Homo sapiens: one gene and its partners. Changing the gene in region 1 together with any one later gene gives a genetic interaction. Each region holds a gene or a part of one and is shown on either strand. Other genes may lie near its edges.

Region 1 (4,747 bases):
TTTTACCCCTTAATTTGAGAAGTCAAATTCAATGCAAACAATTGATTTCATGCCACAGTGAGGCTGAGAATTTAAGCATGGAAAACTTTAAGCATAGAGTTTTTCTGGGAGCAATTAACGAAGTGTTGGCGGGGGGGTTGGGAGCTGGTACAAGGAGGCAGAAAAATACGGAGACTATGTTCTTCAGACACTGAGCATCATATCTTGATGTTGGGGGCCTCCTATGAGCTTGACACTCAGAGAGGTAAAGTGACTTGCCTCAGGTCACACAGCTGGCGATTGGAATCCAAGACACCAGCCCCCAAACCAGTGTTTTCCCTGCTGTGTAGGCTTTTGTGACCTAAACGTGGACTTCCCTCAGGCCCTCAGGATCACCTGGTAGGGATAAAGTTAACTGCTTTTGAAATTGCTCCACAGGAAATATGAATGTCTTAATAACATCAATGCTGGTTCAGCCCAAAGTTGGAAAACCATTTATGATCTTGCGACCCTGCAAAGTATATAATTTTAACCCATATTGCAGATGAGAAAACTGAGGCTTCGAAAGGGAAGGTGACTTGTCCAGGGTCGCATGGCAGTGCTGGGAATGAACCTTCAGTCTACTGCCCCTAACTGCCCTCTGAAAGTGAGGACATCTCCAGAAGAAAAAAAACAAATCTAACATACCACAAAGCCCAGCTCCAGCCTGCCAAGGACGACGACATGGTGCTGGGAAGCCAAGTCAGCATTCCTGTGGCCACATGGAGATTTCTGAGTGCTGGTTCTCAGCCCAGCTTGCTCACTCTCCCAGCAATGTTCTCTCAGAGCTCTGGGTTTTGTATTAAAAAGCCAAGTCAGACTGATTTCAAGGTGAGAACTCGGGCTCTGCTACTGGATCCTACTCCCTGGATTAAAAGGCCTCATATGCCCAGAGATGGGTACAGCATGGAGATTGCTAGATTTGGAATTCTAGATACGCAGGCTCCAGCCCCAGCTCCTCAGGTAGCATCTGTGTGCCTCTGGGCAACTCACTTCCCCTTTCCAAGATCATATCCAGCTTGCAGGGAATGTTGGGTATGTAAGTCATGGGACAGAACAGGGCTGAGTTTGGTCCTGAGCTAGGACACGGTGAGGCACAAGAACAGGCAGAGGGCAGGAAGCGCTGCAGAGATGATGGCTCCAGGGCTGATCTCATCATGGAGCTCTGCGCTCCCAGCCCAGGCTGTGTTTAGGATGGCGACAGAAGGTGGCATCTGAGTGTGAGCAAAGAGGGCACCATGCCACCCCACATGTGTAGCCCAACAGGATGGGAAGGGCCTGGGCAGAAGTGGGTAACAGGTTCAGAGGCAGGGTAGGCACATAACCCAACTTCCAGTCTCCGCATTGCATTTTCTGCTGAGAAGAGAGCTGAGGATAGCCAGGATTTTCTTAAGCACAGGTACCAGCTTAAACCCTTCGCAAGCATTCATCATATCTAGACCTCACCACTGGTAGGCACTATTGATCTCCACAGCTTATGGGAGGAGGCCGAGGCACAGAGAGGGAACAGAACTGATCCCAGGTCCCACAGCAAGGCTGCCTTTGCTAAAGTGAGGGCCAAAGGTTGGCCAATCCATTTTACAGGTGATTGCGTCTTAATCTCCTTCCTTATGAATAGCTTGATTTCAAGTCTACACTGTGAATTCTGACAGTTTCAAAGCCTGAAAGAATTTTGTTATGCAAACATCCAATCCAGAAGAGGGCTTTTGGCTGATTTACTGTGGCATTCCCGGCACCTAGAACAGAGCTTGGCACACGGCGGATGCTTAAGTATTTGCTGAATGAAGATAGCATCTTGTTCTGGCCTCAGTTCAGTTTTATTCCTCACAATAGTCCCGAAAGGGGAATACACCCCTTTTTACAAATGGGCACATGGACCGGGATCATCACTCAGCCTAGTCTTCACCAGTTGGGATGTTGAGAAGCTGTGTCCAGGGGCCTCTTCTGAGGGAATTCACAGGTATTCAGTTAAAGAAAGAAAAAGGTGACACAGGAACAAGATGCATGGGGCCAGGGAGTGGGATGGCTGGGGCAGGACAGCGTGGGGACACCCACAGGTGGGGAGGACTAAACAGTTGGAAAGAGCAAGACTGGAGAGTGGAGGAAGAGCGGGCTGAGCCCAGGAGGAGCCGGAAGACAAAACCAAGGCTCAGCCCCCTATCTCTTAGGCAACACAGTGGGAGCAGGACGCTAGGGCTGCAGAGTTTGGAGTCTGGATTCAAACCCTGGTCCCACCACTTACTTAAATTGTCTAAGCCTCAGTTTCCCCATTTGTAAAATGAAATGATGTACATGAGATGTCAGAGCAGGTCCCTCTACGCACGGTAGGCCTTCAAAAAACAGTTGCAGTATCTACACTGAGGCTGGGACCCAACCCCTGCCTCCCTGGGCAGCTGGGCCCACCTGAGCGGTCTGACTTTTTCCCAGGGCCCAAAGCCCTTCCTGGCCCAAGAATCGCCCCCTCTTTTGATCTCAAGGAATTTCACCCTCCACCCAGAGGCCTTTGTAAAGGCCCCGCCTTCGACCCCATTATGTGTTGAAAAAGAGTCATAAGGCACAATGGGGAGTGGGGGAGGCTTTCCTCGGCCTCCTGCCTTTCTGCTGAGACCTGCGTTTAACCCTTTCTTACCAAGACTGGGCAGGGAAGCAGCCCTGGGAGGCCCACCTCGCAAAGCCTAAAGGGGGCGGCAGGCTCCTTCGGCTTCGCGGGCTCCAGAGCTTTGCCCCACAGCTGCGGTGCCCACAGTGGGTGCCCACACTTTGACACCCACGCGGGTGTCCTCTGTCTCCTCCCGCCACGCCCCCCATTCCAAGCGCCTCCTGCCCTCTCCTCCTCCCAAACCAAACTGCTTTAGACCCCACCGGGTCAGGTGGGACGCCTGGGAGGGCGCCAGGCCACGAGGCCTTGGGGTTGGCAGCCCAGGTCTCTAGAGCTACGGCTAAGGAGGCACCAGGAGGGGCTCAGTCACGGGGCACCAAGGGCAGGTGCCCAGACAGAGCGCAGGGTCCCAGGCAGCGGCTCGGGAGGTAGGAGACCCTGGGACTGCAGGGCGGTCCCGAGCGCGGTCCCCTGAGTTCGCCGGCTCCGCGGGCGCCACGTCCAATCTCCTGTCCCGCCCAGAGCGCGCGCCGGGAGCTTGGGATGCGCGGGAGGACAGGGGCAGGACCAATTGCAGGGCGTCCCGAATGGGCTGCTGTGGGCGGCGTGGCGCTGGAGACCCCGGCCCTGCCATTAAAGTTCAACCACGGGGCCAGCGGAGGATGCAGAAGGGGATGGACCACGTCCGCTGGGGCCCTGGGGAACCAGGGCGCGGGGCAGCGTCGAATCCTTACCTGCGCAGAGCACTGGCGAGGGTCCGTCCAGGCACAAGCGCGTGGGAGCACGGAGCCAGGATAGCGGGCGCGGAGTGGCGGGAGCGCAACGCGGCCCGGGCCACCACCCCCGCCGCCTTATAAAGGCGGCCGCGGGGCCCGAGTGAGGCCCGGGCAGCCCGCCCCCTCCCCCGCCCCCGGCCCCAACCCCTCCCCAGCCCGGCCCCGGCCCCGCCCCCGGCCCGAGCCCCGCGCCCCGCGGGCCGGTCGTGCCACGAGGCCAGGGCGCCCCCTGCCGGGAGCGGAGCTAGGAACGGGCTGGGGTGACGCGGCCCTGGCGTCCCTCGCCCGCCCCGCACTCTCGGTCTCTCTGCCTCCGGGCTGCCCCAGCCCAGCCCTTCCTCTCTCAGCGAGCCTGGGCTCTGACCTGCTCCTTGCGCGCGTCTCCTGTTTTGTCTTTACCGTCGGCATCTTCCTTCTGCGTCTCTTGGTGGGAGTCTTTGTCTCCACCCGTCTCTTTGTCTGCCTTCCTCTCTGGCGTCTGTCTCTGTGTCTGTCAACATATCTGGCTTTCTCTGGGTCTCTGTCTTTATCCGTCTCTGCCCACGTGTCCCTGTCTCTCTGTCTCTGTCCACGTGCACCTCTGACTCTGCACCCCCACCCCCGCTTCCCTGCCCGTGGGCTGCCTCCCTGGCTACCGCAAGAAGAAGCAGAAGGGGACCTCGGAGGGGTGGCATCTGGAGGGAAACCACCCCCTAGACAGGGGCCCTTCCCTCTTTCTCTCTTTAGAGACGTAAAGGGCCCGCAGGTGTCCGGCTATGTCCCAGCCAGAGCCCCAGGACATGCTCCCTGGATGCCAGAGGAGGGGCAGGCACTTCCCAGGCAGTTGAGTCAGACAGCTCAAGTTCAAAACTCTGCTCTGGTGACCTTGGCCAAGTCACTTGACCTATGTGGACCAGCCTGCCCCTCTTTAACAGGCAGACACCATCTCCCCTGGCCTCTCGCTGGTGCGAGAGTCATATGAGACAGTGCTTGAAAACTACAGAGGAAACGCTAAAATCCCGGATAGACGGGAGCCAGGGACAGAGGCTGGGTGCTACAGGCCCTGCTCCCGCTCCTGGGGAACCAGCTCTGATGGAATAACCACTCCCTTTCCTCTGAGCACTGAATTCTCTGGGCAACTTCGCAGTGAGAAGTCCGCAGGCTCTGTTTGAATGCCTCCAGCGACAGAGCTCACTGACTCCTAACAGGAGGGTCTTCTCAGTGGCCCTTGGGAAAATGTCTGCCCAGAGAACCAATTTTAGCCAGGTCAGGCAACCTCTCTTCCACTCACTCCATGCCAGTCTCAGGGCCAGGCACTGTGCATGCATTAACTTCCAAAAGCTCCATTTTCCAGAGGAGAAAACTGAGGCCCAGA
Region 2 (3,823 bases), on another chromosome or scaffold:
AGTTAAGATGGTAAATTTGGAGGGAGTGGGGATGGGCAGAGTAGCAAATGCCTTTCAAAATTGTGTTCAAAGTCTTTTTTTCTACTTGGTCTTTTAAAGACTAATTTCCCAGGCTGGGCGCGGTGGCTCACGCCTGTAATCCCAACACTGTGGGATCACTTGAGGTCACAAGTTCAATAACAGCCTGGCCAACATGAAGAAACCCCATCTCTATTAAAAATACAAAAAAATTAGCCAGGTGTGGTGGTGCGTGCCTTTAATCCCAGCTACCCAGGAGGCTGAGGCACGAGAATCACTTGAAACCAGGAGGTGGTGGTTGCAGTGAGCTAAGATTTGCACCACTGCACTCCAGCCTGGGTGACAGAGCAAGACTCTGTCTCAATAAATAAATAAATAAATAAAGACAAATTTTCCAGAGCCCAAGGGAAGCCAATCTGACCAGTGGTAGCAAGAGTCAGCTCTCTAAACGCATCTCAGCCTATTCTCGACTCCATGTGTCTTGGCCTGGCTTTTCCTTCTGCACAGAATGTCCTTTCACATCTCAGTAAACCATTCATTTTCAAGTTGATGCTAACATTTCAATGTCACTTCTTTGAAATCTTCCTGATAGTCCCCAGTAGAATGGATCACTCCCACATCTGCTCCCATAGAGACCGGGGATTTTCTTCCTCTTTTGTGTGAAGTTTATTTTCCATTACAGCTCCCAGCAATGGTTAGTTTGTAATAACCATTTGTGGAAGACATTTCCCCACTATTAAGAGCTTACAAGCCCATGCTTATGACTCTAAAATCAAATCTATAAAACTAACAGCCACTTCCAAAGTGTTCTCACATTTTATGTAATTTTATGCCTATCAAAATGACCTGGTAAATTTACTCATAACATTTGTACTGCGTTAACATATTTTCTCAAAAGCTATGCACATGAATGTACTATAATCCATAAGTGATCTCAAAACTGTAGCTTGGCTGGGCACGGTGGCTCATGCCTGTAATCCCAGCACTTTGGGAGGCAGGTGGATGGATCACCTGAGGTCAAGAGTTCGAGACCAGCCTGGCCAACATAGTGAAACCTCGTCTCTACTAAAAATACCAAAAAAATTAGCCGGGAGTGGTGGCGTAAGCCTGTAGTCCCAGCTACTCAGAAGGCTGAGCCAGAAGAAGCACTTGAACCCAGGAGGCAGAGGTTGCAGCAAGTCAAGACTACACCACTGCACTGCACCCCAGCCTGGGCAACAGAGGGAGACTCTGTCTCAAAAACAAAACAAAACAAACAAACAAAAAAACTGTAGCTCATTTGTTCTGTAATTATAGTTCAGGTTATTGAGAATTAAAAAATATGAACTTATCAATTTAGATGTGTACCTAAGGGTGTATATCTCTGAACATACAGGTGTATATATCTGTATAGGCACATTCTTGCTTCTAACTTTGAAAGTATCCCTATGATGAAAACACGAATCTATAGCATGTGTATGTGTGTGTATATATATGTGATTTTGAATATATATACACACATACACTATAGATTCTGTATCTACATATACTATGCTTTCTGTTTGAAAGTATCCCTGATGGAAACACAAATCTATACTGTGTATGTGTGTGTGTGAGTATATATATATATATATATATATATATAAAATATATATTATATATAATTTTTAAAATCGAAAATATCTACCTGAAAATACCCAGCCTCAGGTAGGTATTTTCAATGAAAAACAAAACAAAACAAAACAAACAAACAAAACAGCAACAAAAAACATCCAGCCAGGCACAGTGGCTCATGCCTGTAATCCCAGCACTTTGGGAGGTCGAGGTGGGCAGATCACCTGAGGTCAGGAGATCGAGACTAGCCTGGCCAACATAATGTAACCCCGTCTCTACTGAAAATACAAAGATTAGCTGGGTGTGGTGGCAGGCACCTGTAATCCCAGCTACTCGGGAGGCTGAGGCAGGAGAATCACTTGAACCTGGGAGGCAGAGGTTGCAGTGAGCCAAGATTGTGCCACTGCACTCTAGAATGGGCAACAAGAGCGAGACTCCGTCTCAAAAAAAAAAACAAAAAACACAGAAACAAAAAAAATCCTGTGAGTTACTGTTGCTTGTCTAATTTTATGCTAGGTTCTGTGGAATATAAATGAGAATAACCTAAAAAAAGTAAAGTATTCAGGCTAAAGGCTTCAGATAGGCTTTTTTCAAACTGACTAGATGGTAAAAGCTAGGAATGACCATGGTCCCTCCTAACCCACACTCCTTATACATCAGGAGACATGCAGAGAGATATCATGACTAAAGGTCATAATTTGTAGGTAGCCAAAGTGAGGCCTAAAACCCAGATCCCCAAATCCTATCATGCATTTCAATCTTTGGCTATACTCAACTAAGGACTACTCTGTCCAGTGCCCCAATCACGCAGGGCTTCCTCCAGACACACTAGAACAACTCACAAGGTTTGTAGTTCTCATGACGAGAGGAGCTGTCCAGAGGCTTGCCATGCACGAGGGGGTCTCCTCCTCATTCTAAAGAAACAGAAAAACTGATTTTAAAAAGAGCCTGTAGAGACTAACATTTGTTTAAGTGCTTTAGGTGTGTTTCTCCCTGAACAATACCAGATAGGCCTGGATAGGAAGTATCCTTAATGTACCATCCTATACCGTTCTGATTTCATGTTTCTTGCATATAGATTGTTAGTTAGCTCCTTCAGGGTAAGAAGGATCATGTGTCTTCTTTTGATGCCCCCATCCCCCAATCCAAAGGATTTAATAAGGCTGGTAGCCCTATTATTAAATGAATTATCACCAAATGAACAAAAATATCAGCTAAGCAAGCCCCGGGGAACTGCTGTTGCTGTTCTTTTTCACATCACATGCCTTCTCCAGAGGTAATTAATTAGTAGAACAAATAGGAACACACACACACACACACGGTACCTTCAGATTCTCTCCATCGAGAAGGTCCACGAAGCCATCATCCTCATCAGACAAAGTGGCTGTCACAGGTGACTGGGGTGTAAAAAGAGGAATGAAATTCCCTGGTTCACTGCTATCTCTTTCATTTGAGGAAAGCTGTAAGACAAAATTCATGGATTAATAATGAGAGCTCTGATCCACTTTCATTTCCTTGAATGGGTCACTAGTTTTTATGATGAAAACATACTATGTTATACTTGTTATACAAAGCAAAATTTTAGCCATTACTGATTATATGAAAATGTATCCCAAGATTATAAATGATTTGATGACCACACACAGCCCTGAGTAGTCAGTAGCCTTTACAGAGAACTCTTGCCAGAAGCAATTCACCTTATAATGGGTACTAGAGATAGCCTCTTGTGAAGAACAAGGTTTCTTTTATTAGAAGGTTGCATCAGTGAACACCGATCAGCATTGAGGACTGTGACAGTATGAGAATCTGCTGAAATGAGTTAGGGCAAGCAGATGCAAATCTCTATAAAGACCATAAAATGGCCTAGAGAATGCACTTATATATAACTCCAGTTCTGACAGGGGGGAATAAAGGGTAACTTCCTTCTATAAAATCTATCCTCGTTCTTTAGACTTGGGATTTAAATGCTCAGTTTTTAAACGAGGAATTACTGTGTGCCAGATACTACGATATAATCTTTATACATATAATCCAATAGAAGCCTCACAATACACTAAAGGTAGCTAATCCTTTCCTTTTTCTTTAGCAAATCAGGAAACTGGTGCTTAAGAGGTTACCAAGATTATACACCTCATCTGTTTGACTCCAAAATCCAAACTCTTCTCACCACACTATCTCCCTAGGAGAAAACCATTCCTGGAATTAAAATGGC
Region 3 (2,761 bases), about 190 Mb from region 1:
CCCCCAGTGATCCCGCAGGATAGGAGGAAGAGACTTGGGCCAGGAGTCAGGAAACCTGGGTCCGGTCTGCCCCAACCAGTCACCAGCTGCGTGACCTTGAGCAGACTGCCCTCCGCCTCTGGGCCTCAGTTTCTCTTCTGCAAAATGAGAAGATGATACCAGATGGTCTTTAAGGTCCCATTAGAGACCCAGGGAATAAAAGGATTCTAAGAAACAGCACTGAGTTTGGACAGGAACACAGAATCCTCTGCTCACAACCTGGTCAGCCAAGTGGCCTGGTCGCTGTTCTTGTCATGAAGACACCCCTGGGATGAGAGAGGCAGAATCAAGCTCTCCCCTACCAGCACCACGCCTCACACCTGGGCACTCCCCGCAAGCCGCCCACCCCACCTGGAGCCCCTCTCACCCAGTGGTGCCCCTCACCTTGACATCCTCCCACCGCTCCTTGTCCTCCTTCAGGACCCGGCTGGTGTGCAGTGGGGTTTGAGGGACCTTTGTTGATTGCTGAGAAGAGAGAAAAGGGGTCCGAGTGAAAGCCTGGGGTAGGGTCCTGGCTAAGACTCTGTCCTGTGGAATAGTCCCGTGAGACCCAAGGCTCCCCAGCCTGCCGAGCTTACCATGATCCAAGGGTGGTTCATAAACTCGGTGATGGTCATTCTCTGGGTGGGCTCTGTTTTCAGCAGATTCCGAATGAGCATCTTCACTGTGGGGTGGGACAGGGGGCAGTGACAGCTCAGGGGTCACTCTCCCTGGCCTGCTCCTTTCCCCAGTTTTCATGGGGAAACCAGGTTCAAAGAGGGGGTGCATGGAGGCAGGCTGCCGGAGCAACTGGCCCCAAGGACCATTACGGCTGTACCACTTGAGAGGCCCTGCACAGCCCCACAGCCTTGGCCCTGCCTCCAGCCCTCCACACAGGCAAAATGAAGCAGGACGCACCCCGCAGGCGTGGGCATAGGTGCTAACCCACAGTTACACCACGCACATGAGATGGAGGCCCATACATGTGTCTGCGTGTACACACATACACACACACACACACACACGGGCTCTTCCCCTTGTCCTGAAAGCCTGGGTTCTTACCTTCCTCTGATACTTCTGACCATTCTGGGTTGGGAAATTCATACTGGCCCATTCGGATGCGAGTCTTCATGCCCGGAGAGATGGCAAGGCCGTGGTTGGAGTAGAAGGGGGGATACCCACACAGCCTGCATCAACAGGAGGAAGGAAGTGGGAGACAGAACAGCTGTCACTTAGTGGCCCTGTACCAGGAACAGGATGAGAAACAGGCTCTTCTCCTTGTAAAGGTCACAGAGAAATCAGGGCTTATTGACACAGGCACAATATACAAAGTCAAGCCCGGGGCCCGGGAATCCAGCATAGCAAGTATCTAAGGCGCACACTTTCCAGCCCATGAGCTGGTTTACACCCGCCACTTAGCTATCGGAACTGAGAGAAGGGGCACGCAGGGGACTCCCCTGTACAAAGGGGAATGCTAACGTCTGCCTCTTCCTCTTGTCCTGGAGAAGTACAGGCCGCCCTGACTCCCTGCCCCACCCAGCCCCCTCCCCAGCACACTCACAGGATGTACATGATGACACCCAGGGACCACATGTCACAGGACTTGTCATACTTCTCTGGACCCAGCACTTCTGGAGCTGCAAATCAAAGGTCAACATGGGTGGGCCGGCCCTCAGAACCCTGTGATCCACTCAGTTTCTCTGTGAAAGATGCTCCCCATCCCAACCTTTCAGCCTATCATGAGGTGGCAGCAGTTGGGGCACAGAAGGAAGAGCCAAAGCCCAGCCCAGGGACTGGAACAGAACATCCTCCTCCATGAGGAACCTGGAACTAGGAGCTTAAGATTCTAAAAATCCTGAACTGCATGAGACTTTCAGGCCCATGCCGTTCATTTAATTTCACAGATGCTCTGAACATGCTTTGAAAGCTTCTTCCATGCCAATCAGCTGTGGCTCCAGAACAAGACCTGGGTCCAGACTCCATGGAGAATCTGATGGAAACCATGGCTCTTCTCAGAAAGATCCCAGCAGATCCTTTCCTACAATTTCTCAACTGTAGCTTCGCTCTGACAAGCCCTACTTCTCAGCAGGTCCCAGCAGAACCAGCACCAGAAGGGGCCATACAGACACAACTCTCCTAGGATTTGCGGCCCCCCAGATAGCCAAGAGGAGGGGCTGAGAAAAGTTCTGGGAAAAGCCTAGGTCCCTGGGCCCCCTGTGGACTTACCCACATAGTACGGTGTATAACAAGGAGTGGTCAAAGAGTTGTGGCTGGTGGTTTCCTTGGCAAAGCCAAAGTCAGTGAGTTTCAGGATGGCGTTGGGCCTTTTGGAGGTGTATAAGAGATTCTCAGGCTACAGAAAGAGAGACAGAAAAATAGCAACCCTGCTGGACCTGGGAGGGGCTATCAGAAACGAAAAGGATCCTGGTTCCTCCCTTCCTCTACTCATCCAGCAACCATTTGCCTATCCTGGGCACTGCCCACCACGAGGAGTGGCAGCTCTCTATGGGCAGGTGCCTGCCTCTGCAGGGTTTCCAGAGTGCCTGGAGATAACAGACTGACACACAGAACCCGCAGTAAACACCACAGGAACAGAGAAACCAAGAGTGTGACTGAGGGGTTCTGCCTGAGGAGAACCACAGGGCTGAGTGGGGCCAGAGAATGCTTCACTACTGGGTTTAGGGGTTTGCCCATGGGCAGAGAGGGCAAGGCCCTACAAGGCAGAGAATGGCATGCTCAGGAA
Region 4 (3,823 bases), on another chromosome or scaffold:
GTGCCTGGGTTTGCTTCATCCACAGCCTGAGTGACTCTTAAGTTTCTAACTTCTTGACCATTAGTGACTACTTGCTATGGGAAAAGCACTTCAGACTTCACAAGATGAAACTATCCTAGGGCTTGTCATTTTGTTCAGTCCTCAACTTTCTACTCCATAGCCTATTTCTATGCAAACATCAGCATGTGGAGCTAGATGCTGGGAATCACAGAAGATTACATCTATTCCCCACTGGAACTCCTGTGAACCACCAGGGCCTCTGTCTCTGGCTCATATGAGTTTTACTGGTCCACTACAGGGAGGCCAAGAGTCAGGGAGGGCTTGTAACAGAAGGGTTGAGATGGGGCAAGAACAGGTGGCCTGTCCTTGACAGTTTGGTAGATATAAGAAGCTAGAGCAGGCCAGGCCCTACTGGCTTGTCCAATTCCTAGTTTTACACTGGGCTAGGAGATCTGCATCCCTTATTGCACACCAACCCCATCTCCACCGTTTGAAACTGCTCTCAGGATCACCCACTCCTGCTCTCCTAAAGTACTTTAAAGGCACCTGGTGGGGTGGAGAGACAGGGGAACTCACCAGAAGGTCCCTGGAGGCCAGGGGGTCCTTGAGGACCAGGAGGACCTGGAGGACCAGGTGGTCCCATAACAGTTGTTCCTGGAATTCCAGGAATCCCTGGAATTCCTGGGGGTCCCTGGGGTCCTGGAGGTCCTGGGGGTCCTGGAGGGCCATTGGGTCCAGGAGGTCCTGCTTTCTTTCCTGAAAAATAGGATTCAGTGTTACTTTTTTTTTTGAGACGGAGTCCTGCTCTGTTGCCCAGGCTGGAGTTCAGTGGCACGATCTCGGCTCACTGCAACCTCCACCTCCCGGGTTCAAGCGATTCTCCTGCCTCAGCCTCTGGAGTAACTGGGATTACAGGCGCGTGCCACCGCGACCTGCTAATTTTTGTATTTTTAGTAGAGACGGGGTTTCACCATGTCGGCCAGGTTGGTCTCAAACTCCTGACTTCGGGTGATCTGCCTGCCTCAGCCTCCCAAAATGCTGGGATTACAGGCGTGAGCCACCGCGCCTGGCCTCAGTGTTACATTTGTAGTTATTTCCTGTGATGAGTGTACTGTCAGGAGTTCTACAGACTTCTGAGGACACAAAGTCAGCTCTCTGGGAGGCCCTGCTAAAGAGTTGGATACCTTTATCACACATCTCTGTCTCCCTGTCTCCGTCTGTCTTATGCTTTCTCTCCCCTCCCCCCACTCCCTTTTGTGAATATGCATTTACAAAGCTAGGTTTGAGCATATAGAAATAAGTGGCCCTCCAGGAGATCAGTCTGTGTCTGTGGGGAAACAGACACAGTCATGGGATAGTAGAAGTGCTACCTTAGTGGGTAGGGACCAAATGCTGAAGAGGTCAGAGAAGGTTTCAAAAAGGAGGTTACATTTCAGCTGAGTCCAAAGGATGAGAATTTCTCTACCAAGTGATTAGACCTATGGGTCACTTTGTGGTTCTTTTTAGAAAGGGCTATTGTTGAAGAATGTGGAGCTTTTATGTTTACTGCCCAGTTTGGTGGACTTGATGTCGATAACAAGAGGAAGCCGTACAGCCTGGCCTTAGGAACAGTATCAGCTCCAGGAAGGTTCCTCCAGGAGTCAGGATGTACAGGAAATGGGGGTTGGGATGGGGACAGTGCTAGTCGGGAATGAGGAATGGGAAGGAGTTTTGGAGATGGGGGAATGGAGAAGGAGGAAGAGGGGCACGGAAAGAGGAGGAGGGAGAGAGAGAGATATTGAGAAACAGGAAAGAAGCAGAGACAGAGAGTAGAGGGAGCTGAGGAGGAGGCAGCAAGTTTCACTCTCTCAGCTGACCTCTGTAAACTCTATTTTAAAAGATCTCTGGGAAAGGAAATTCTGCAAACTCCATAGTAACATGTTCCAATGTTTATTGCCCCTCACTGCTCACTGTTAGGAAGTTCTCTGGTATATTAAATGATGTCCCTCTTGTGGCAGTTTAAGCTCTTATTCTATTTGTGTAGACAGAGAAGAATATACATATACATAATAATCCTTATATATGAAAAGAAATTAAGTTACCCACCAACCCCTATTTCTATAGGCTAAATAATCCAGCTTCCCAAAGTCTTTCCTCAGAAGTCCCATTCTCAAATGTATTATTAATCATGCCCACCAACTCTTCCCCCTTTCCTCCTTGCTATCCTTCTAGAACAATCTCGACCCTCCTATTTCATATTCCAGTCCTTTCAACATTCCCACCAGGATGTAGTTATCTTAAATGAGTCATAACTGTGGTCTTGAACCAAAACCTCCAGCTCTTCCTGTTGACTTCCTCTGCTCTGTGCAGCTCCACTCAAAGACTACATGTAGGCACAGGTCTTCTTCCTTCCTTCACCACCTTCTCACAATTTTATGGAAAGTTTCAGGAATGGAAGCCTGTTTCCAGACTTCATCACAATGTCTTCACCTGAGGTAGTTTCTTAGTTTTAAATACAACCTTCTCTAGTCTCACTAAAAACCTTCTTACTGACTCTGACTTCTTGCTCCCCAGACACTTAGGCAGGAGAATCTTGTCCTGATTTATCAGGTCCTCCCTTAAGAACAATGCCTCATGGCCAAGAAACCCAATCCTCATGGCAATGCCACTCAAGAGGCCATTTGTCTATGTCTAACCACATCTGCATTTGGAATGAAACCATGGGGTCATCGTGGGGTCTCTTCCTCAGAAAGGAAGGAAAGGAAGGTCCAGAGAACATCTCTCCCAGAAGAGTCCCTGTAGCCTTAAAGACCTAGAGGCATGAGCTTTAGAGGTTTCTCTGCACTTAGCAGCAAAAGATTGGATCTGCCCCGTTTCTAGATCTAGCCAATTTCAAGATGCTGAACAGGAAAACCATCTCCTTTCAGATTTGGGCAGCTTCCAAATCAGGCTTATTCAGAGCCCAAGTTTCAATTCCAGCTAGTGTAGTGGAAAGAACACAAAATCTGTACTCAGGAGATAAGGATGTAAGCCCCAGCTCTGCCACAGACACACTTTGGGCAAATCCCTTCCTCTCCTTGAGCCTTAGTTTCTACATCTGTGAAACAAGGAGCTTGGCCTCAATGATTTCTCTGTTTCCTCATGAGACTGAGTTTCTATAAGGAGGGGTGGCTTACCCCTTGCAGTCAGGAAGCTTTCTTAGCCTGGTTGTAAGGTTTGCTTCTCCCTCCTTATTTTCTAGGTGGCACAGACACAGAAGTTGGTGCATATTAGGCTGTCCTGTGTTCCAAGATTTCCAAGCCTAACAGTGATTTTCAAGCTAGAGGGTGTTCTGTGGGTAGCACAAACTTCACCTTCAAGAATGTGAGTCTCCTGTAATTGCTAATGTAATTTTGGAAGAATTAGAGCCAGAAACTCCTCCAGTCCAAGAGACTAATGGTTGCAGTGAAAACAGAGAATGTTCACTTATGAAAATGTTAGAAGGCATTTGAGAAAAAAAAAAACTCCTGCTTTGTTCCAGTTCTGCAGCTGGTCCTCTGCTTCTCTGCAACAAGGGTTAGGCAAGTGAGCTTCTCACACTTGCATACTTACACAAAGTTGGGCCCAGAGAAGAGAATGTACAAAATGACCCCTGGAGCAAGAGGATAACTTCAGAGGATTGACTCCCTTCTCTCGATTTCCTTACTTTAACAGAACACCTCATGATATAAAAGCCCAGAGACGTTTGTACTTAGAAACATACCCTATGTAGTGTTAGATGAAAGAATATACACATTCCTTTCAAAGCTAAACTTCATCAAAGGAGTATTTCCTTAACCTTTTAGCTAAGCCCAAAATCAAAGAA

The links. A genetic interaction does not mean that the proteins touch.
Region 2: changes in ALPL (region 1) and CDC25A together harm fitness more than expected from each alone (negative genetic interaction), as found in Homo sapiens cells (one large-scale study listed by BioGRID).
Region 3: changes in ALPL (region 1) and MAPKAPK2 together harm fitness more than expected from each alone (negative genetic interaction), as found in Homo sapiens cells (one large-scale study listed by BioGRID).
Region 4: changes in ALPL (region 1) and EDA together harm fitness less than expected from each alone (positive genetic interaction), as found in Homo sapiens cells (one large-scale study listed by BioGRID).

Annotation. Positions count from the first base shown.
Region 1 is NC_000001.11:21,508,122-21,512,868, reverse strand, and holds the start of ALPL (alkaline phosphatase, tissue-nonspecific isozyme isoform 1 preproprotein), read right to left. Parts: upstream 3,447-4,747; 5' UTR 3,352-3,446; intron 1-3,351. UniProt on the Homo sapiens protein: Alkaline phosphatase that metabolizes various phosphate compounds and plays a key role in skeletal mineralization and adaptive thermogenesis.
Region 2 is NC_000003.12:48,174,918-48,178,740, forward strand, and holds part of CDC25A (M-phase inducer phosphatase 1), read right to left. Parts: intron 3,072-3,823; coding exon 2,937-3,071; intron 2,526-2,936; coding exon 2,454-2,525; intron 1-2,453. UniProt on the Homo sapiens protein: Tyrosine protein phosphatase which functions as a dosage-dependent inducer of mitotic progression. Directly dephosphorylates CDK1 and stimulates its kinase activity. Also dephosphorylates CDK2 in complex with cyclin-E, in vitro.
Region 3 is NC_000001.11:206,729,582-206,732,342, reverse strand, and holds part of MAPKAPK2 (MAP kinase-activated protein kinase 2), read right to left. Parts: intron 2,372-2,761; coding exon 2,245-2,371; intron 1,656-2,244; coding exon 1,580-1,655; intron 1,206-1,579; coding exon 1,081-1,205; intron 704-1,080; coding exon 618-703; intron 505-617; coding exon 424-504; intron 306-423; coding exon of another isoform or gene 252-305; exon of another isoform or gene 1-251. UniProt on the Homo sapiens protein: Stress-activated serine/threonine-protein kinase involved in cytokine production, endocytosis, reorganization of the cytoskeleton, cell migration, cell cycle control, chromatin remodeling, DNA damage response and transcriptional regulation.
Region 4 is NC_000023.11:70,024,790-70,028,612, reverse strand, and holds part of EDA (ectodysplasin-A), read right to left. Parts: intron 757-3,823; coding exon 577-756; intron 1-576. UniProt on the Homo sapiens protein: Cytokine which is involved in epithelial-mesenchymal signaling during morphogenesis of ectodermal organs. Functions as a ligand activating the DEATH-domain containing receptors EDAR and EDA2R. May also play a role in cell adhesion.